Regions from separate parts of the Homo sapiens genome. Here all the other regions are linked to region 1. Evidence: fine-mapped expression QTL. A gene starts in region 1. Each other region holds a variant in brackets. All regions are shown on one strand. Distances are from middle to middle. Region 1 holds the start of RWDD2A (RWD domain containing 2A). Region 2 holds the start of UBE3D (ubiquitin protein ligase E3D). Region 3 overlaps UBE3D (ubiquitin protein ligase E3D).

Region 1 (7,909 bases):
TAAGAAATGAAGTAAACGGGCTGGGCGCGGTGGCTCACACCTGTAATCCCAGCACTTTGGAAGGCCGAGGCAGGCAGATCACGAGGTTAAGAGATTGAGACCATCCTAGCCAACATGATGAAACCCTGTCTCTACTAAAAATATAACAATTAGCTGGGCGTGGTGGCGCACGCCTGTAGTCCCAGCTACTTGGGAGGCTGAGGCAGGAGAATCGCTTGAACCTGGGAAGCTGAGGATGCAGTGAGCCGAGATCGCACCGTCTCAAAAAAGGAAGTAAACATGTCCTTCCTGTTCTCATTTTAAACTTGATTTAGATTTCCAATAATGAAAGACAAGTGGGTGTGTCACATGTGTGCTAGCAATGTGAAACAAATGCTATTCATATTTCTCAATTCATAATTGCAGTTTGATTTTTGATGTTAGTTATGGGCTTTGGATTCCTCTTCAATCAAATCAGCTTCACAAGTTAAATGGATTGTTTTTATTAATTTACAATGAAATAGTTTTTGAATGACTTCACACAAAAACCTAGAGATAACATCACAATTGCAATGTTATAAAGTTTAAAGGCCTATTCATTTCACTGTCAGTTGAAATTCGTTACCAGGTGAAAATTCTGGAGCTGGGTTTTGCACTGAGGATGCTACACAGCCACTAGCCTTTTTAATTTGGTCTTATTAACAGAAATACTGACTTAGTGAAATTACAGGCATAGGCCTCTTAATCGCTTTTTATGAGTCTGAACTTTTGCTTTCAATACCAAATAGTATCTGAAAAACATGCTCACTTTTGTGCTTCTTGAGAAATTCTAAGAATTGGCCCAGATTCATGTGATAGTCATTCCTTAATCCATAGTCACCATGAGCCTCAAGGAGTAACTCTTCAAAAGAATGGAAAAGGCGCAGGTCCTCACCATTTCCTTCTGTCTCCACGCTTTCAGCATGCTTACAGGAAATGTGCTTCCAATTGGGGTACCTAATTGTGTGCCAGAACTCCTCACAGTGCTCTTTGAAACCCTCCACACAGATTATACCAGGCTTTCCTGTCATGCAAAATCCAGTCACATCTAACCTTTTCCCAACATCCAAAATCTTTTTCCTTAGGTCCTGCTGATATATATGGTGACTGTAGATCCACATTCGGAGGAATGTGTTCTTGACTGGCTTTGCTTGTGTAGATGGTTCATATACAAGCTTTCTGTTCAGGAAATAAGATGCACTGTTGTCCTGTAGCCACTGGATTGCTGCACATACACAGAGCTCACCTGGATCAAAAGTCCCTATGTAAGAAGTGAGACCTTTGTTGAGAAGTAGCTGCTGATGTCTGTCAAGTTCAGATGACCGTCCAAACAGCTGCAATGCTACATAGGGGTAGCTGTGAGGCATGGTCACTTGCAAATCAATTTTCACCTTAAAATGAAAATCAAATAGATTTAAATACCATAACATCACATAAGCTAGTTTATCAATAGCAACTGCATGATTTTGAGAAATGTTATTGCTACTATTAAATGTACCAGGTACTTTACATACATGATTGCTTCCTTTTATGCATTATTTCAATATTTATTGAACAACTACGTGTGCCAGGTGCCCTTGTGCTGGGATAAAAAAGTGAATAAACCAGACACTATTTTTGCCCTTCATGAAGTCCAGGGCCTAGTGAAGGAGACACACATTAAACAAATAATTACATATAGCAAGTATTTAATTTCAATTGTGAAAAGCATTACCATGGAAAAGTGGAGGGTTCCATTGAAGTGTGTAACCAGCGGGACAGAATCCAGTCTGGAGAACCAGAAAGTCTCCTCTGAGGGAATAACAACTGAAGGATGAGTAGGAAATAGCTACAACAGTGGTTCTCAAATGCCCAGTCCACGTATTACCTATGCTATGCTAATGTTGCTGGAGATAAATGGATCAGAAGATGGAGGTAAATTCATTTTTAGTCTTTAGATTTTTCCATCCATATTTGCTTTCTGTGTTATGGTGCCATCAAAAAATCCACTCATTCACTCCTTAAAAGACAGTTATGTTACAGGAGATATTTAGATTTATGAAAATCATGATACATGTGAAAGGTAGTCCAACTGGATGGGTGAACAAAATAATAATGGCATAAGACTGCAAGATAGCGTCAATAAAAACTCCAGGTATATTTGTTAAAAAGGTGTATATGTTTACATAAAATTAAAGATATTTACTGAAGACAATTTATAGAGCATTCCGTATCTTTCAAACAAGGAAATATGCACCTGGAATATTTCTATCTTTCCTTGACAGAAAGCTCATGTTCTAGATGTTTCAATTAAAAACTGGGCACCTGGCAAACACTTAAATCAGGGTACCTACCTTGGGCTCTTCAATCTGGAGTGTAATTACAAATTCGATTTTTGGTGGCAGCGCCTCCCTTGTGCCTTCCAAATACCTCTTTATATTCGTCAGGGCATTTACATCTTCAAGTTTTACTTCTCCTTGGTTAGGAAACATAGAAAACAGCATTTCCATCTCCAGTAGCTGAAGCTGAAGGCTTTCTTTCACCGAAGCAGACATGTTGCCTCGCAATCAGCCTGCCTGGAAACCTCACAAGGCTCAGGGACGCTGGGTTTGTCAATGCCAGCCGGTATCCAGCGAAATTTCCCGAAGGTCCCTTTACGTGGAAGCAATTCTGCAGGAACGCTTTGCACCGAGAGCTAGGGGCACAAACCAGACACTTGCACTCTTCTTTATTTCCTGACTCCAAAATCTAGTATGCACAACATCCTCTAAAACACTCCGTAAAAACCCATATTCTGCGTACCCGGGCTCCGGGTTCCCGCCTCCCGCACCCCGCACTAGATAGGGGAATCTGCACTTTCAACAGGTGTTTGGAACTGTCCCGCTGCAGGTGGCAGGCAGACACCTGCAGACGCTCTGCAAGCCTGAATTCTGGGAAAGGCTGGGGCCCGGCTTCCAATCCCACCCGGGGCTCGGGCTTGGGCGGAGCCAGACGCTGCGGCGAGAGAGGCCGCAGTGCCAGCAGGATGGGCTCCGAGTTCCCCAGCGCCAGTCGCCACCCCTCGGTCCTGGACTCGCGGACCGCCCCCCCCCAACACCGCGGTGGCCTTTTCGCTTGGGCCGCATTCCAGGGCTCCGGACGTTTACGATTCACTGGCCTCTGCCCCGAGGGACCCAGGATAAGGGTAGGGGGTGTCTCAGAGGTCATTAAATAAAAGATGTTTACAGTGAGCTGGGGGAAGGGGGTACCCGGGGAGACGGCAGCCGGAGAAGGCTTCCCAGATTCAAAGGTTTGGGAGATGACCTCGACGTCGGAGAGGGGGATGCGGGCCGCCGGCGGCGCTCACTGTGGGCGAGGTCGCCCTGTCCGAGGCCCAGCGACGGGGCTGATTCCCCACCCCCGCCCCTAGCCAAGACCACTAGGAACCCCGGCTTCCCAGGAACGCAGGGCCTGCCGCCCCCAGAGGCCCGGATTTGGAGGCGGAGGCTGTGCCTCCGCGGCCGCAGTGCTCTGAGGGCCCGCGACCCTCGGCCCCAACCCCCGGGCCACCGCGGGGGCCTCACCCTTTCTGGTCACTCAATGGTAACAGCCCCAGACCCCGCTCGGAACCGCAGCCGCAGTTCCTCAGGCGCCAGCTGCGCGCGACCTGCGGCGAGGCGGGGGCGGGGCTGGCGGATAGTCCTCTGCCGTGATTGGCCAGGGGGCGTGGCGACGAGCCGGAAGCCACGCAGGGCCACGTCTGCGGTTCTGAGGACTGGGTTTGGGTGCAGACGTTGTTGCTTGGGCGCTTCTCCGCTGCGTGTAGGTGAAGGGGGCTTCCTGACCGAGGTAAGCCGGGCCCCGAGGCTCGGAGTTGAGAAGGGAGACTACCGGTCGGCAAGGGCTCGGTGGGAGCGGGACAGGTCAGATTCTCGGCCCGACGGAGGGGCTAGTGGTCTGGCGGGCGACTGACCGAGCGGCGGAGCGCGCGGGACACACCTACAGGCCCCTGCGCCCCGCGGGCGGGCTGGTCGGGACGGGCCGCGGGTCTCCTGCCGGGGCTCTGGTACGTGGACCTAGGCGGGGACCTCAGGGTGGAGTGCCGGGAATCACCCTTGTGCGGTGATTCGAGGGTAGGCGGGAGAGAGGCACCAAGGAGATTTGAAGATTGAATGGAGAGTAGGGGGATACTCTTAACTTTTTGCGTGGACGCTGGATTTGGCAAATATGCTTTCAATAAAGGCATTCGCAGAGGCATTGAAAGTAGTTGTAGGGCCTAAAACGCATGAAAGGATGAACTCATATTATCTGGACCTTTTTTTTTTTAATGGCTTTTTGGAGTTAACAGGACTGGTTTACACTCTTATGAATAATCATGACACATAACTGACTGCTCAGTTTTTACAAATATGTATTCATCCTTAGGAAAGAGATCTGATCACTGTCTTGAACTAAATTAGTTTACTGAATGCCAGCTTTTTCCAACTGGACAAAAGCAAGTATTTTTCACCATTTCTTGCAAGTTCTGTTCATTGAAGCAATGAAGGACAATAAAGAAAACAAAATTATGAGGCTAGCAGCTGGCGGACTGCTCCTCATCTCTGGGCTAATTGGGAATTAATTGACCCAGGAAATGTAGTATATGGACTACTGAAGGAAAACTACTGACTGAGGTTGGAAACCCCAAGTTCCACTTAATGGGAGTATCCCAGAGAAAACAGTATTAGTGGGCTAAGGGCCGATTTTTTGTTGTTGTTTGTTTTGAGACGGAGTCTCACCCTGTCGCCCAGCCTGGAGTGCAGTGGCGCGATCTCGGCTCACTGCGACCTCCACCCGCGGGTTCAAGCGATTCTCCTGCGTCAGCCTCCTGAGTAGCTGGGACTACAGGCGCGCACCACCACGCCAGGCTACTTTTTGTATTTTTAGTAGAGACAAGGGTCTCACCATGTTGGTCAGGCTGGTCTTGAATTCCTGACCTCGTGATCCGCCCGCCTTGGCCTCCCAAAATGCCGGGATTACAGGCCTGAGCCACCTCACCTGGCCTGTTTTTTTTTTTTTTTTTTTTTTTTGAGACCGAGTCTCCCTTTGTCACCCAGGCTGGAGTGCAGTGGCGCGATCTCGGCTCACTGCAACCTCTGCCTCCCGAGTAGCTGGGATTACAGGCGCCAGCTAACACGCCCGACTAATTTTTTTGTATTTTTAATAGAGAGGCGGTTTCGCCATGTTGGCCAGGCTGGTTTCAAACTCCTGACCTCAGGTGATCCGCCTGCCTTGGCCTCTCAAAGTGCTAAGATTACTGGCGTGAGCCACCGCTCCCGGCCGATGTTTTATTTTTAAAAGTAAAGGAAAAAGGTGGCATTCTTTCAGAAGAAGATATTGCTAGTTTTAGAGCAACATCTTAGAAGGGTGTCCTGATTGTTTTTAGCAAATGGAAAAAGATCTGGGTAGTCTTGGAGAAGAAACTGTTGCCTTTTGCTTTTCCTTTAAGAATATGTCTCTGTAGTTTGGGAGAAATAGCAAAAGAACCACAAAGATTTCTCAGATATTTGGGGATATGTAGTTTCAGTCCACTCAAGAATCTGACTTTAGGCCTCAATCCGTCACCAGCTATCTATGTTAATTTAGGTTAGTTTCCCTTTTTGTAAAATGAAATGATCTTTGAGCTCATTGGAGTCTCTGAATAGGTGTAAAATCTTCATTTTAGTTGAGAGTGGACCAATTTAAGTGTGCCCGGCGTCCAGGATAGTCCTGGAGCTAAAATGGGAGGAGAGTGGGGACAATCTGCTATCTGCCCTGAGTCTGCCCAGGAGTGGACATACCAAGTTGGACAACATCTTGTAGGTAATTCTAACCCACAGGACTTACTCTCCTGCCCATTGCTCTGTCAAACATAGGGTTCTTTGAGGAGGTTCAGGATGAGACAGACCTATTCGTTTGGGGTGGCAGTTTTTGAAGCAAATGGTTCTTAAGAAATTACTTGTTATGCCCGAAACAATATTTCTTAATTTTGTAGACATGGATTTAGGTGCTATTACAAAATACTCAGCATTACACGCCAAGCCCAATGGACTGATCCTTCAATACGGGACTGCTGGATTTCGAACGAAGGCAGAACATCTTGATCATGTCATGTTTCGCATGGGATTATTAGCTGTCCTGAGGTCAAAACAGACAAAATCCACTATAGGAGTCATGGTAACAGCGTCCCACAATCCTGAGGTAATGGGTTTAGTGCCCTGATAAAGCAGACCATTATTTACAAGACCAAGCCTTAGTGTCTGAGCAAATTGACCTAAAGTACAAATTCTAATTCTAGGAATGTGCCTTCTCATTTATATGTGCTTTGGATGTGAAACAACTTTTTTTTTTTAAGAGCATGATCATTAAGCTCATGATTCCTAAGGGTGTGGAAAGAATGAAAAGATACTGTCATTTTTTGGAGTGTCCATATTAGAGAAATAACAATGTCCTTCCAAATTTATTGATTTAAGACATTTTCAGTAATTGAAAATTGTTTCCTTTGTTAACTTAGCAGTGATTAAAGATATTGGGGTTGGGTGGGGAAGGGTAAAGATTTGAAAAGAAACATTTTGAACATTTTCAGACAGGTTTTTATAGCTCGGCAATAATTTCTTGTTCTGAATGAACAAACAGGTGAGCTTTGGCAGAATATTGATGACGCCTGATAGTTCTAGTCTTTGTGACAGTTAGATTTTAATCAAAGTATTCTTTTTGACACAATTATTTTTTCAGCTTTATTGAGGTATAAGTGATAAATAAAAATTGTATAATTCAAGTCATACAACACCATGTTTTGATATATGTATACATTGTGAAATGATTACCACTATCAGGCTAATTAACATATCCATTAGCTCACATAGTTACCTTGTTTTGTGGTGGGAATACTTAAGACGTACGCTCAACACATTTTCAATATATATTATTATGAACTATAGTCACCACGCTGTACGTTAGTCTTCCAGAACTTATTCATCTTATAACTGCAAGTTTATGCCCATTGGCCAGCATCTCCCCATTTCCCTTACCCTCTAGCCGCCACCATACTACTCTGTGTTTCTGTGAGTTTCACTTTTTTACATAACACATGTATGTTATGAGCCTGCAGTATTTGTCTTCATGTGTCTGGCTTATTTAACTTCGCATAATGTCTTCCAGATTCAACCATGATGCAAATGGCAGTATTTCTTTTTTAAGGCTGAATAATATTCTATTGTGTATATATACCACATTTTCTTCATCCATTTATCTGTTTATGAGCACTTTTGTTGTTTCTATATCTTAGCCAACCTCTTGACACAATGTAGTTATTCTTTATTAGCTATAGGCCATTAATACAGGGTTTGAATAATATGCTTCTATTTGATTGCTGGGGCTGTGGGATTTTTGCCTTTGTAGCTAAATCAGCAGCAAGTTAAAGTGGTGTAGGTCTGTGAAGGATTGTAACCTCCTCTTCCCCCAAACAAGGGCATTGCTTGTCCAAATATGTGATCATTATAAATGTGTATATGTCTAAATATGTAAGTCACCATAATTGATTGACTGATTGACTTCTAGGAAGACCCTCACATTTATTGCTAGTTCCAGAGGCACTTCTCAAAATGATTCTCTTTTCTTTCAGGTGACATTCACTGTGAACTACACTTTCTTTCCACGAATTTGAGCAGAACAGTGTTGGGAGGCAGTTTTCAGTGTCTGTCCTACCCGCTGGTTGACAAGCTGGCTAGTGTGTTCTTGGAGTTCCGAGTCATAGTGAGAAGGATCTCTGTGTGCCCTTATTCTGCTCCACTTGTGCCCTAGTCAGTTTATGGATAGTGGATGCACAGATCACAGCCTTTTACAAAGGCTAGTGTGGCATAGTGTTTTTAGGCGAGTAAGATAGACTTGCTGTTTTAATATCAGTACTGACATT
Region 2 (7,909 bases), 130 kb after region 1:
AAGTTGAGAAGCAATGGCAAGTCAATTCTTGAAAATTTTGTCGCTTTAGATAGAGGCTAACAAACGACCCTTGTTCATAAAGAGACCAAGATAAAGTGGGTTTGGGGCCGGGAATTCTGTTCTTGCATCTCCTGGGGACAAAGCCCACCTGTAACACTTGCCTCCATCATCTCCCTCCCTTCGAGCTAGCCAAAGGTGTGAACCCTGGGTCTGATTTTTATGGTCATTTCCAGGGATGCTAACGCGCCAAGTCACGCTCATAAGAAGCAGAGTGGGGCGATAGCTAGCCTCTCGCCGCCCACCTTTCTCAGCACTCTGGGCCAAAGCCTGGTTTTGAAAATGCGCGCCCCGCCCCGGCCTCCGGGGTCACGCGCCTTCTCGGTGGTGCACTCTCCGGCCGGCAGGTGGCGCTGTGAGCTGGTAGGCGGCGCCAGCCCTGCGATCTGGCACAGGCGCCTGCGCCGCAGCGGGGCTGCCGCTGGTTGGTCCGCACGTGGAACCTCTCCTGGTCCTGTTGACCCGGGCCCCTCGGAACCTCCAGCTTGGTCCGGTCTGGGACTGGAAGCCTGCCATGGCGGCTTCTGCGGCGGAGACGCGCGTGTTTCTGGAGGTGCGGGGACAGCTGCAGAGCGCGCTTCTGATCCTGGGGTAAGAACTGGGATTCTAGGCGCAGTGCCCAGCTCGCTTTACTGCTGCCCGGGGGTCGGGGGCTGGTGAGTCTCTCTCTGTACGAGGGATTTTGAGTTTCTTCTTTCCAGTTGCGTAGAGCCTCTCGATCACTCAAAGTGAAGCTTTCCCCTGTAGTCGGCTCCGCCACTCCCACCCCTACTGACAGTGTGGGTATCTTTGGGGAGCTTTTTAGAAATTCAGGGTCTCAGCTCCACACCAGACTTATGGAATCAAAACTTATATTTTAACAAGATTTCCAGGAATCAAATGCACATTAAAATTTGAGGAACAGTGATGTAAAACACTGTTGGCAGTGCCCGGCGTTTCCAACAAAACAATGCAAAAAATGATTTGTCTGTCTCTCTTCGGGATCCTCCTTACTGGATCAGTTCCTATGTGAGCTTCTTGTTTTGTAAATAACCTCGGGTCTTTTCGTCCAAAACTGCTCTTTGCAGAGAAACCACACAATCATTCAATAAACGTGAGTTTAGTGAACCACTAAGACAGGTTGTAGACTTCTTACTGGAGCTCGTTCATTTATTCATATTCTTCCTTCCAGTGAGAACGTCAAACTTGTTATTCGCTACACAAATAACTTTTAGGAAAAATGTTCTCTATTTTGTTTGACAGCAGTTTTAATGATTTGTGGTCCCCTTGTCTATTCCTTTGTGATCGCTGTTTCAAAGAGAGTAAGTTAGAAGTTAAAATCCTGAGAATGGTATTACACGGTGCCACAGGTAGATTGATGCTTAATTTTTTCCTCTTCCCTAAATCTGCCAGATATCTGGTGTGGCAATTTGGAATATGGCGTGAGAACTGAGTTCAAATGCTAGCTTCCTCACGAAATTAGAATAATTTAATCTGAATTTCTTCAATCTTGAAATGGGAATAATAGTACTCTGAATGTATTTCTTTTTCTCTTTCAAAATTTATGAATTTGGACAAATATCTCCAATTCTGGTGCACCTTGTAGAGTAATTAGGAACCCAAACCCTACCAAAATAAAACAAAAACCACACACACACAACAAACCCTCCCTTCCTCTCATGCAGGGGCCTTTCACAGTTCCCTTGGACTACTCTCCTTTGTTTAGGCAAGGTACCCGGGTGGCTCATGCCTGTAATCCCAGCACATTGGGAGGCTGAGGCGGGCGGATCACGAGGTCAAGAGATCAAGACCATCCTGGCCAACATGGTGAAACCCTGTCTCTACTAAAAATACAAAAATTAGCTGGGTGTGGTGGCGCGCACCTTTAGTCAGTCCCAGCTACTCAGGAGGCTGAGGCAGGAGAATGGAGTGAACCCGGGAGGCGGAGGTTGCAGTGAGCTGAGATCGCGCCACTGCAGTTCAGCCTGGCAACAGAAAGAGACTCCGTCTCAAAAAATAAAAAATAAAAAGAAAAAAAAAGAAACCTAACTTTGCTGGACTTAGTTTTGCCATTTCTTGAACTACTTATAAATGGATTCATACAATATATACTTTTTTGTTTCTGGCTGCATTCCTTCCATAATATTTTTCAGATTCACGTTCCATCTATGTGGCTGCATATATCAGTAGTCCATTCCTTTTTCTTGCTAAGTTTTCCATTGTATGAATATACCACAATTCATTTATCTGTTCTCCTATTGCTGGATGTTTTTCTTGTTTCTGGAGTTTGCTTATTATGAATACAGCTGTCATAACACTGTTGTATAAATCTTTTTTTGGACATACATTTTCATTTCTTTTTAGGTAAGTACCTAAGAGTGAAATTTCTGGGTCATAGGATAGATGTGCATGTTACTTTGTGAGAAATTGCCAAACAGTTCTCCAAAGTGATTGTACCAGTTTGCACGTTCAACCAGAAAAAAAATGAGTTTCAACTACTTTACATTTTGACTTACATTTAGTATTATCAGTCCTTTTAGTTTGAACCATTCTAGTGTGTGTAAAATAGTATCTTGTGGTTTTAATTTTCATTTTACCGATGACTAATAATGTTGAGTGCCTTTTCACTTGCTTTTTAGCAATTCATATATGTTCTTTTTAAAAGTATCTTCTAATTTTTTTTGCCCATAATCAGATTATTTGTCTTGTTTAATTGAGAGTTCTTTATACTGTCTCAAAACAAGAGCTTTCTCACATAAATGCCTTGTGAATATATGACTATTCTTATCTGTGACTTAACTTTTCATTTTCTTTTCTTTTTTTTTTTTTTTTTTTTTTTTTAGACAGCGTCTTGCTCTACTGCCCAGGCTACAGTGCAGTGGTGTGATCATGGCTCACTGCAGCCTCAACCTCCTGGGCTCAAGCAATCCTCCCACCTCAGCCTCTGGAGTAGCTGGGATACAAGTTGCATGCCACCATGCCCAGCTAATTTTTGTATTTTTTTGTAGAGATAGGGTTTCACCATATTGCCCATGCTGGTCTTGAACTCCTGGACTCAAGCGATCCACCCACTTTGGACTCCCAAAGTGCTGGGATTACAGGTATGAGCCACCATGCCCTGCCTCGTTTTTTTGATAGTGTCCTTTGATGAACAGAAATTTTAATTTTAATGAAGTCCACTCTATCGTTTTTTTATTCCTTAAGGGTTAGTTTTTTTGGTGTCTTAAATCTTTGCCTACCTTAAGGCTGTGAAGATGTTTTGGCAGGTTTATTTTCTAGGAGTTATATCGTTTTAGCTTTCACATTTTGATCTGTGATCATGTTGAATTCATTTTTGTGTTTGCAGTGAAGTAGGGATCAAAGTTCTTTTTTTGGTATAAGGATATTCATTTATTCTATCACCATCAGTTGAAAAGGCCATCATTTCTCCCATTAAAATAACTCAGTCTTCATGAGAAATCAGTTGACTATACTGTTTGCATAGTGTGTCCTTTCTACCTTTTTAACCTTTCTTATGTCTTTCTGTATAAAGCAAAAAGCTGTAAAAATACTGTATTTCCCTAAAAATAGCATAAAACTGTATGCTAGTTTTAAAAATATATAGTTGGGTGATTTTAAATCTGTTCTGATGATCTGTGTGTTCTAATTAAAATGTTTAGTATATTTTATAGTTAATTTAAATATTGGTGTTCTTGTTCCTAACTGCTATGGTTTGGATGTGTTTTGTCCCTATGTTTTCTCACTTTGATCCCCAATGTGGCAGTGTTGAGACATAGGGCCTAGTGGGAGGTGCGTGGTTCCTGAGGGCAGATTCTTCTTGAATAGATTAATGCCCTCCCATGGAGATGGTTGGGTGAGTTCTCTCTCAGGAATGGATTAATTCCTGCCATAGTGGGTTGTGAAAAAGAGTCTGGCTTCCAAAGTTTACATTCACAGATGTAAAGATCTATTTATATTAAGATATCTTAGCATTTTGGGATAAACTTTGGCCATTCATTTATTCAATCCACAGATGTTTATTGTGTTCTTACTCTAGTGCCAAAAATTCAAATTCTAAGTGCTGAGAATACAGCCATGAACAGTAACAACAGCAAAGACAAAAACACCTGCCTTTGTTGAGCATAGGGTTTAATGGTGGCAGTAGAGAAGAGGCGGCAGAGAATATACAAAATAAATATATATTTGATAGAAGTGGAGAAAAAAATTAAACAAAAAAGGAATGGGGAGAAAAAAGTTACAATCTTTTATTTCAAATGAGAAACTAACATTTGAGTATTAAACTGTAACTGGTGAGGTGTAGAACTGCCATACCTGGTGGGAGACAATTTCCCTTTGAGAGAAAGTGAGTATGAAAGGGTGCCTAGTTCAGAGAGATGCGGGTGAGTTGGGGGAACACATAGTAAAAGATCTTATGGCAGTGTGCTGGTACATGTT[T/C]AATAACCTACTCTCCATGAAAATAAACAAAAAGACAAACTAAGGTCTTGATTTGAAGCATTTGTTGATTTCTTTGGTGTGAATACTTTCACCACGTATGACCTTCAGCCTACCAACTGGGTGAGGTGAGTTGACCTGCTTTGCAGAACTCCTAGAATTTTAACAACAGGTTCTCCAAAGCTTGTAGCAGCAGGGCCTGCTATACCACTGTGCCTTATGGACCATCGAAAGGACTTTAGCTTGTAGTTAGAGTGAGAGATGAAGTCATTGGATAGTTTTAAGCAGTTGTGATACCTGACAGAATACAAGTCAATGGTGAAGAAAGCCTCAAGTATGAAATTATTGTATGAACTATGTCAATCAAACTTAGTCTTAAAGTAGGAATTCTCCTAAAGAACCATCATCCAACACTCACAATTGGGAAATGTGTTGCTACCATCTTACATCATTCATGTTTTACCAGTTGTCTACATAATATCCCTAATAACAGAAGAATCCAGTTCAGAATAAGGCATTGCATTTCACTGTCATGCTTCCTCTGTCTGTTTCAATCTAGAAGAGTTCCTCATTTTCCATTGACTTTCATGGTCCTGACACTTTGCAAGATGATAGTACAATCATTTTGTAGAATATCCTTCCATTTGGATTTGTCTTATGTTTCTTCAAGACAAGATTCAGATTTTGCATCTTTGGCAGGAATATAACAGAAGTGAGGCTTCCTGTCAGGTGGCACATGATTTTGCTTTGTTCCATCAAATTGGTTATGTTAACTTTGAGCACTTAAAGTAAGATAGTGTCTGCCATGCTTCTCTACCTTAAAGTTACTCTTTTTCTCTTCATAATCAGTAATTGGAGAGGTATTCTGAGATTATGTAAATACCCTGTTCCTCATCAGAGTTTCATTTTATTCATTTGTGTGTCAGTAAGGATACATGATTCTTACTGTGGGTTACTCAGTGGGTTTTATTTTTTATTTTATTCAATGGGCTACTTTTTTGTTCATATTATACCAGATGTGGCCAAGGAAGTCCTTTCTGGATGGTTTCTGCGTCTTTTTTGGTAGGTACCTGTCATTCTTTGATTTCTTCATGTTCCAGCAACATGTTCCAGGCATATTTCATTCTTTCCCTGTTACAGCCCTGGATGTAGTCATTTTACTGAGGAACTTTGTTTCTGGTTTGTTCATTTCGTTTTTTAAAGCAGAAAATGGCCTTTACAAACCAAGATCTGGGCACTAAGTGTACTCATCACTGTTGGATGTCGCTTCTCCCAGAACTAGGGTATGTGTGTATGACTTATATATGATGTCTATGTATGGTTGTGCCTACATACCTATGTACATACATGCATTTACAACCATCAATATTACTGTATCTATTTGTAAACATTGAAAACCATGACTTCACACAGGTATTTCTAATTCTGCCCCACCACCATAGGGTCTATTCTAGTTTCCTCGCTTTCTCTTTTTGTAACTCCATTCTCCCACAGTGAGAATCATGGCCCTCATTGTCCTAGTGGCATTTATTTATTTTGTCAGTCTCCCTCTATGTAATTAATAGTCTGCTGGCATCCTTTGCCACCTCCCCCTGCTCATTGTTGACACTCTCCTCACCTGCTTGGACCCTGTTATGGACTGAATGTTTGTGTCCCCTCAAAATGTACATGTTGAAGCCCTAACCCCCAAAGTGATGGTGTTAGGAGATGGGGCTTTGGGAGGTAGTTAGATTTAGATGAGTTCTTGAGGGCGGGGCCCCCCTGATGAGATTAGTGTCCTTATATGAAGAGGAAGAGGCACTGAACTTCCTTACTCTGCCATGTCTGTTGTTTAAGCCACCCATCTATAGTATTTTGTTATAGCAGCTGAGCTAAGACAGGCTCTGAAACCCCATCCTGAGCTGGCCTCACCTCCTGTTCAGATTTCCTCCTCACCTGTCTTGGGATTTGACACCCCTGCTGAGTGGTCCTCCTGGTGGATGCCCTCCACAGCCTGCTTGGTTTCTCATATCCATGCTGGGCCACTGTGTCACCACCCTTGCACTGATGCCTCCCTTGCTTGGCCCTATGGATGCCCTCCACAGTCTGCTTAGTTTCTCAAATCCGTGCTGGGCCACTGTGTCACCACCCTTGCAATGATGCTTCTCTTGCTTGGCCCTATAAAATGACTAAAGTTTTTGGGACTGGGAAGAAATGTGATAAACCAGAGATGGGGTGGCAATGGGGACTTAGGAACCCAGTGGTATCTCTTGCGGCACTTGGAAGTGTCAACTCTACACAGTCTAGTTTGAAAGTCATTGAGGTAGCAAATGGACATTGTGTTATCTTTAGAGCAGTGGTCAGAGAACTATGGCCCATTGGCCAAATCCTACCTGCAGCCTGTTTTGGTACAGCCTGTGAGCTAAGAGTTGGATTTTTCTTCTGTATCTTTTTTTCTTTTAGACAGGTTCTTGATCTGTCGCCCAGGCTGACATGCATTGGCGTGATCATGGCTCACTGCAGCCTCCTGGGCTTAAGTGATCCTCCCCATCTCAGCCTCCTGAGTGGCTAGGACTACAGGTGCGTGCCACTATACCCAGCTGATTTTTTATTTTTTATTTTTTTGTAGAGCCAGAGCCTTGCTTTGTTGCCCAGGCTGGTCTCAAACTTCTTGGCTCAAACCATCCTCCCACCTCAGCCTCCCAAAGTGCTAGGATTAGAGGAGTGAGCTACCTCGACCTGCTGATTTTACATTTTTTAAGGGTTGTTTTTTAAAAAATAAAAAGTATAATATGTATTCTACTTTGAGACCATACATGGCTCATAAAGCCTAAAATATTTACTATCTGGTCTTTCACAGAAATAAAGTTGCTGACTCTTGTTTTAGAGGATCATTATTTCTTAAACACCATTTCTTGAAATTGAACTTTTGACTCAGGTTTGAAACTGTCATCCCTGCAAAAAACTCAGATGCTTAATATTCTGTATTGCTAACTAAGTGCAGATCCATATGCTTTGAAAAGGAACTAGCCAGAAAGTAGCTATAAGATTTTCTAAGGCAGATTTCTAAGGCCTAACCAAGATCCACACCTGAGCACATGGTCTACCCTCTGTACTCAGATGACACTCAAGCAAATGGCTTGCTGTCTGCACTTAGTTGACACCATGTGGATGACCTGCTGTCTGCACTTAAGAGGGAGCCATGGTACTTTGTACCTCTGTTGCATTGCTAAGCGTATTGCAGTTTCAGAGGAGGGTCATTTCCATAGATGCCTTTATCCCCTCTATACTTTTGATGCCTGGGGGCTTTTGACAGGGACTGTGTTTTACTCTTTATTGCCTATACTGAGTAATTTGTGTTTGCTCTGAATTGGATTAGTAAGTCCTTTCACACCTGATATTCATACATCACTGTATCGTTTTCTTCATTAATTCTTTTTATTCTTAAAATTGACAGGTTTTT
Region 3 (7,909 bases), 290 kb after region 1:
CTATGGGAAACTTTCAGCTAACCTTTAGCCTCTGTGACTATATATTGCCTAGCTCAGACTTGTGAGAAGTATTCTAATTTATAAGTTTTATTTTCATGTAATTAGAAAAACAACAAAAACCAGTTATTGTCTCAAATGTTTGGGCCCTTGTTATTCCATTTAGAAGCAGTATATTGGTAATGAAGCTTTTTGCTGTGTCCCCAAATACTGCATTTCAAAACTTCAATTCTGGTCCTTTACCATGTAGGAAGATGATTGGAGAGTACACAATGAACTGATGATCAAGTCTTGCATTAAGGTAATAAATGAAAAGACTGTCACAAAATCTATTCATGTCCCCCCTGAGTTTTTTTTTTTTTTTTTTTTTTTTTTTGCCAAAATGTTCTTGCTGTGACCTACTTCTACAGATAAGAAAAATGATTTTTCCATCCTTCTATGACATTATGGCTATAGTGAACTGTTCCCAAGTGTCTTGGTGTAGGTGGCCTTGTGAGGATAAGAATTAATTATTTTTAGACTGCTGATGCATCACCTCTGTGGTGTCTATATTTGTCTTCTAAGAATGCATCATCACTCTCTAATTATAGGTGATCTGGTGGGATTAGATCTTTTGAGTTAAACAGACTAGGATGACACAAAATATGCATGGAAAGTAAACATTTGAAAAATTGGTGAGCCACAGTGATTGTTAAGATCCCAACTATACTGCAGTGTTCAGAATAACACTCAGAACAATCTTCACATTGTCAGTGTCACCACCTGCCTAATTCCTACATTTTAAATCAGTTGCCAATTGAGTTTATTTTTATGTTTTCAACTTGAAAATGTATCACCTAATTCTAATTCTTGGACTCTTGCAATGTTACCCCAACAGCTTTTGTGAAAGAAAGAAAAAAAAATAGGAAATCACCATGGAACCTCTGGAATGCTGCTCTGTGACAGCCGTCTCTGCAGAACCAGGAGAGCAGTGAGGGCTGTGGCACCTTGGTCTCAACTTTGAGGCTTGTGAGGCAGTACAGAGCAGAGCTCTGAGCAAAGTTTTAAAGAGCAGATCATTTTCTGGGCAGGATGTTTTGCCAAGTAATGTGGAAGTAATAGAGTACTGGGGTTGAAAATAACAAATCTCCCAGTCTCTTTTCAGCTCCATCCTATAAAAGGTTATTTTCTCTGATGTTGATGCAGAAAAGTAATAAACCTAGATTCTAGTTATATAATTAATTTGTCCAATCATTCATTCCAGGCAACAAATATTTACTGAAAACCTTCTGTGTACAAGACCTCATAGAGAGATATACAGAGATTTAGATAAGATGTTGTGCTTCCACATGAATGGTCCCTTTGCAGGCAGGAGTGGATACGCAAGGGTTTTATTGGGAAATCTAAAGCACAAAGTGTCGTCAGGAAGAGGCATTTGGTTCCCTACTCAGTGTCTGTGTGTGTGGACTGTGTCACAGGCAAAGTGTGGGAATTTAAAATCACCAGTGCTTTTCCTCTTTTCTTGAATCCCAGTCTAAGAAGTAGCTTTCGGGAATCACAAATTCAAGTGTTTAATCGATGATGAACATAAAGCTGGAGCATTTGAACACGTTGAGGGTAGTGACCAAAGTGCAAGGGTGCCTTTCTAGTCCCCCAAGATCACTTCTAAAACTCAGTGCCATTTTAAACAGTGAAGTTGGGAGGAAGGGGAAGGATCGCATCCAATTTCATTCCCCTACTGTGCAGCAGATGTGCCCACAGGAACAACTGCACAGTGCGATGTTGTCAGGTTTCCAAAAGAATTTAGCTAATGGGCTTCATTGCTCATAGACCTCGAATCCCAGAGAATCAACATGAAGGTGACAGACAAGTACAAAACTTGAAGCTTCTAAGAGTGAGTAAGTGATGAAGTTTTTGTGAGCAGCTTTTCCAACCTAAGAGTTCTAATTTGCCCCACCCAAAATTTGAAGCAGCTACCCTTGCACAAAGGGAAAGAAAGCAGATGTGAATGCTTATGTTAAAAGTCAGCTAATTTAAACCTAAGGAAAAAAATTCTTAGCTGTGGAGAGGGCCAGAATATTGAAGGAGCTCTGCAGCATCTCCTCTGGAGGCATTTCTGAATAATATCTCTTGAATGGCTTAGCTGTACAGGGCTGCCTCCAGGCTTAGCAGAGAATATATTCTGGGTACCATTGTAAGTGTTAGGGAAGGCCTGAAAATCACTGGCAGAAAGGCTAATGTTATACAGTTCAGATTCCCCCAAGGAAGAAAATGTTTATGCAATTCAACTTTGGTAACCTGAGTTGTAAGCTACTTGTTTTCTGCAAACATCAGAGTTAATAGTACCGGTACCCTAAACTACTAGTTCACAGCATATTTTTGGATCCATTTTTCTTTCCACTGAAGAACAACTTTTAACTTGTTATCAGGAATGTTCTCTTAGATTCAGAGAGAACCACAGAAGTCCGTTGCCAGTTTGTTACTGTGACCTGTGGGACAGGGGTAACCCCTTCAGAAGTCCTCACCCACCTGCACACTTGCCACACTCCCTGTGACTACTTCAGACTGCATTAATTGAGCACAGAGCCATGGGGCCAGGAAAAGTGTGGCACTACAGAGAGGGGCAAGTGAAATGCTGAGGCTTCCTGGGAAACCTGGACTGACTCACCTGCAGCCTGAGCCAGGCCCTGCTCCAGTCCCACACTGCTTTATGACCCCAGGACTGTCTCTGTGCCCTGGCTGTATAAATATCTCCCTGAGGCCTTCAGGAAGTTTCGAGTAGCATAGTACGTGAGTAAGTTATGCAGTGGAGGAAGGGAAGAAAGGAAGAGTGTATTTGAAAGGAGAGCTGTTGACAAGAAGTCCTATACCCCATCCATCTTTCTCCTAATATTTTTAATAAACATGTATTAAGCACAGTTTGTATATGTAATGCATTTATTGAACAGTGGAACTCATAGGATTGAAATATGAAATTTTTTCCCCCAATCTTCAACCACATTTTGGAGTTAGGAAAGGTGTTGCTGAGTTTCTTTTTGTTTTATTTCTTATTTTCGTATTTCAGTAGCTCTAGAGGTACAAGTGGTTTTTGGTTACAAGGATGAATTGTATAGTGGTGAAGTCCAGCCATTAGTGTCACCCAAATAGTGTACATTGTACCCAACTATTGACATTTTAAGATGGATTTTTTTTTATTGTAGAGAGCTGTCCTGTTCATCCCGGGCCTCTGCCTACCAGATGCCAGTAGCATTCCCCTAGTTATGACAACCAAAAATGTCTCCACGCATTGCCAAATGTCCCCTGGTTGAGAACCACTAATACACACCCATGTAACCATTATCCTAAAAGAAGATTTAGATCATATCCATTTCCCATAAAGTTCCCTTCAGGTGTCTTGCAGTTAATCGTTCCTCTTTGAAAACCATTGTCTCTATTTTCTATCATCTTAGATTCATTTTGTCTATATTTGCACTTTGTATAAATTGAATCATACTGTATGTACTCTTTTTTGTCTCGACCTCCCACTTTAACATAATGTTTTTGCAATTTATCCCTATTATTGCATTTATCAGTAGTTCATTCTTTTTTGTTGCAGAGAAGTATTTCACTGAATAAATATGCCACAATTTGTTCATCAGTTCTCCTGTTAATGGGCACTTAGGTTGTTTCCTATTGGGGGCTGTTTTGAATAAGGCTGCTGTAAATATTCTGGTAAAATCTTTTTGTGGACCTGTTTTCATCTCTCTCAGGTACATATCTAGGAATGGAATTGCTGGG[T/C]TGTAGGATAGATGTATATTTAACTTCTAATAAACTGCTAAACACTTTTGCAAAGTGCATGTGCCATTTTACACTCCCAGCAACCATGTCTGAGAGCTCCGGCTGTTCCGTGTCTTCATCAGTGACATCATTTGGTGATGCCAATCTTTTATTTAACTATTCTGGGTATCTCATTATGATTTTCATTTGCATTTCCCTAACAACCAATGATATGAGCACCTTTTCATGTGCTTTATCTTCTCTTGTGAAGGATCTGTTTTAAGGCTTTTTATCATTGATTGTAGGAGTCCTGTTCCCCTCCTACATCCCCCACCACTACCCGTAATTGGTTTGAGTTTTACAGGAAACTCAGGGACTGAGAAACCTTTGGCCATCTGAATAAATTTGATCTAAATTATAAAAACCACTGTGAAACATGCCTTCTGGATTTTGTTTGTTTGTTTCCATTTCCAAACATCCTGTGAGTTTAGAGAGTATTTTCCTTAGAGGTTAGAAATACTCCTCCTAATTAGCCAGACAGGTATGCAGAACTACTTTAATTTTCTATGGCATAGCCTTCCAGTGCTTACAGCCCCTACACAGCAACAGCCCGACCTCATCCTTCCACAGTTTTGACAAGCAAATTAACAGCAGGAACCTGTCCCCACATAAGGCAGTGAGTCACTTTTATAATTCCATGCCCAAGGGAGTTTTGTGGTGAGCCTTTTTCTGGAAGCAGTTATTTCTCACTCCTCCCTCCATTTTTCTTTTACCCATACAGGAATGTCTTTACCTAGTTTAAAAAGAATTAAGTTCTCTATCTAGAAAGATCCTTTTTTCCATTCCTATTTTCTGATAATAAAGCTTAGCTATTTCCTTTTAATTACAGTGGAAAAGGGAGGGACTCATGAACTTTCTTTTGTTTTAGTTTGTCCGATAAAATGACTCGATTGTTAAGATGGTTTTAAGACAGTATTTTCTAGCCTGTCCTACTTAGCTAACCAGATAGAAAGATTCATCTCTGAGTAGTTTAGAACCTTGTTTCTAAATAGGATACAAAGACACTTGAAGCAGGGTGTTTTCTTGCTGCACTTTGAAAAGGGAAGGCAGTGGCCTGCAGAAGGGGAGTGGCTTGTCTTATGTGTATACATGAGGTTAAGTGTTCAAAGTGCTTTGTAAGCAGTAAGGCAATCTCCAGATGTGGTGGCTAAGTACCATTCCCCACTAAAAGGAACCATGTTTCTTGGGAAAATGGCTGATTCTATGTCTGAGATAAGAAATGTACAAGACAAGACTGAGTTCTGTCTTACCATAAGTGAGGGAAAAAGTAATCAAATTATTATAAACTACTAGGATCACGTCAAAAGGACTTAGGCTCTAAGTTGAAGAGGTTTTTACTGACAAAGATGGGCAGGTTTGAGTATCAGTGAGAATGACTGCAGTGGATTAAAGCATATCAAATATATTTCAAATCCATGAATTCATAAGGACACTAAAAGCATAAAAGTGGTCACATTTCAGTCTTTGGAAAACTCTGCAGAACAAAAAGCCTGATTTCTTTGAAACACAAATTGCAAATGGAGAAAAAGGGAAGGAAGAGGGACCTATTAATTAAAAGCAGTGTAAAAGACTTATTAATTGTAATATGTGGACCACATTTGGATTCTGATTTGAACAAACGCCAACTGTTAAAAAAAAAATGTATGAGCTAGTTGGAGAAATTTGGTCACTGATAGGATATTTGGTTATATTAAGGAATTATTGATATTTTAAATGTGATCATGGCATTGTGGTTTTATTTTTATAGTAGTCTTTCTCTTTTAAAGATATATACTGAATTATATGTGAAGTAATAGGACTGGGATTTGCTTCAGAAGAGGTCTGTGGCAGGGATTTGGATGAAACCAATGGCCGTGAGCTCATAATCATTGTTTCTGGGTAATAAATGTATGTAGATTTGTTGTATCTTTACTAGAGAATATATTAACATTTGAAATTTTTTATAAGCTAAAAAAAACCAGTTAAGTACACTACAGATTGTTACTGTTAAGGGTTTATTGGAGAACAAAAGCAGATGTTTGAACAGGGAGGGAGGACTGCTGGGATGACTAGACTTGAGTAAGGAGCTGTGTCTTGCGGGCCTTGTTTGTTGGTATGTTGCAGTGAAAAAATTAGTATCCACTGATCTAACCTGCCCCAAACATTTTTCTCTCTAGCTTTTGATTTAAGTGAAAAATGTGTGGCTCTTCCTTCCACTTGAACATTTAGAGGCCACTGTAGGGTATTAATTGGCCTAATTTCAGTATTGTTTTGTGTGAGATGTTAGGGAGGCCCTAGGAGAGGGAGAAAGACAGGGTAACGGCTGGTCATTGGTACAGACAGAACAGACAACATTTATCGATTAAGTTTGTGGCTATATATGGGCATGATTTGTGGTGCCCCAAAATAATTACAATAGTAACATCAGTGATCACTGATCATAGATCACCGTAACAGGTATAATATTAAAGGAAAAGTTCAAAATATTGAGAGAATTACCAAAATGTGATGCAGAAAAATGAAGTGAGCACATGTTGTTGGAAAAATGGGGGCCAGTAGACTTGCTTAATGCAGGGTTACTGCAAACCTTCAATTTGTAAAAAATGCTGTATCTGCAAAGTACAATAAAGTAAAGCAGAATAAGTGAGATGTGCCTGTATTAGTAAAGGACTATTCAGCCAAATAGTTTCATATATTAAAGGTCCATGGCTTAATCATTAATCCTGGATTCAGAGTTGAATTTCTCAGGAGTGGATTATGTCAGCAATCCAGGATGTGCTGGTTTGAATCCCTAGGAGTGTTGCCCATTACAAACCTTTAGACGCCCCCTACACAATCCAGCCAGTGGCCTCTGGGCTTCAAGTTATTTTTCAAGGACCAGGTGATATTTTACACTAAGCAACCTACATTCTTATATTTGAAAATGCTATAGGTTTATAGTTTCTTCTTCAGATGCAATATCTGCAATTTCAGTGACTGTCACTGGTAGATGTTTTGTTACTTAGGGTAACATAGGAAAAAAAGCCTTATTTAAGCCTTGGATATTTATATACACAATTAGTCATTTATGCTTCTCCTTTAAAAATAAACAATTAAACATGAATTTGTTCATTAGCAGCAGACAGCAAAAGAGATGCATCTGCAGCAATATTTAAAAGAAACACTTAGGTTTAGTATAATAATATTAAGCTCTTCCATTTATCAAAGGCCTCATCTGTGCCATGGCCTGCCAGGCCATTTATGTCCTTTATTACTAATCCCCACAACCACTGGTGGGCAGAACTGGAGGGAGCTAAGGCTCCAAGAGGTCATTCAGCTAGTAAATGTCGGGGAGGCATTCAATCTCAGCTCTCCCAAGAGCCTATATTTTTCTGCTCTCCCACCACCTCTAGCAGTGTACAAACTGCTGACTTCTTACACTAATCTGTTTTTACTTCTCTCTGTGTAATGTACAGTAGTCCTCGTTTAACGTGGTTGATAGGTTCTTGGAAACTGTGACTTTAAGTAAAATGACGTTTGGCAGGTCCTTGAATAATATTGTTTCCTTCAATGTCATTTCATTATAACTTTGATGATAAAAAATTGGTTCATTATGCTTCATTTCACTTAAAGTCACAGTTTCCAAAAACCTATCAACAACATTAACTGGGGACTTACTGTACTTTATCTCCAATTCTCCAGTCTTTTCATATCAATTAGAATTCACCTTTCTGCACCTTCCTGGTAGCCACCTGAGACTTCCAGCTTCTCATGGAGAATCTACCGCTTTGAATGCTGAGAGTCTTTTTCTGGTCCCATACCCTACACTGTCCTTGACCTGGAAAAGTTCAGTGAACAGTTCTGTATAAAAGAACGCCCTTTGCCTTCCATGTGGCTAAAAGTAAAAAACCCAAGGCTTCTGGTGAAACATCACATAGCATCCTCTTCAGCTTTTCAGCTTGTTCCCCTCTGTGGTATGACCGTTTATAAACTCCTCATAAGCCATTATTTACCCCTCCTTTAAAACAAACAGGCTAATTACTGTTTTGCGATCCCCTCTTTATTTCCAGCAAGTCCAAACGATAGACTTAAGAAATAAATGGTATTTATTCTTAAATGGCTATATTAGCATGTTTTTCTTTTTAAAATTTGCATGTCT

The links. PIP is the estimated chance that this variant, and not a neighbour inherited with it, causes the effect. A credible set is the group of variants that fine-mapping cannot tell apart.
Region 2: its variant is the best candidate, but not a certain one, in a credible set for the expression of RWDD2A in whole blood (GTEx, PIP 0.60).
Region 3: its variant is the best candidate, but not a certain one, in a credible set for the expression of RWDD2A in whole blood (TOPMed, PIP 0.51).

Annotation. Positions count from the first base shown.
Region 1 is chr6:83,189,095-83,197,003 of GRCh38, reverse strand. It overlaps RWDD2A (RWD domain containing 2A), which reads right to left and starts at 3,647. Exons shown (of 3, transcript NM_033411.5): 1 at 3,561-3,647; 2 at 2,352-2,692; 3 at 1-1,409. The coding sequence starts at 2,552. The coding sequence ends at 732. PGM3 (phosphoglucomutase 3) reads left to right here and starts at 3,739. Exons shown (of 13, transcript NM_015599.3): 1 at 3,739-3,825; 2 at 5,990-6,195. The coding sequence starts at 5,992. RefSeq lists silencers at 3,349-3,718, 4,019-4,088 and an enhancer at 3,277-3,776.
Region 2 is chr6:83,058,381-83,066,289 of GRCh38, reverse strand. It overlaps UBE3D (ubiquitin protein ligase E3D), which reads left to right and starts at 449. Exons shown (of 10, transcript NM_198920.3): 1 at 449-648. The coding sequence starts at 572. The variant T/C (reference allele first, on the strand shown) is at 4,471.
Region 3 is chr6:82,903,661-82,911,569 of GRCh38, reverse strand. The region is part of intron 9 of UBE3D (ubiquitin protein ligase E3D); the gene reads left to right. Among named protein-coding and RNA genes, the nearest start is that of UBE3D, 160 kb to the left of the region's middle. RefSeq lists a silencer at 453-653. The variant T/C (reference allele first, on the strand shown) is at 3,754.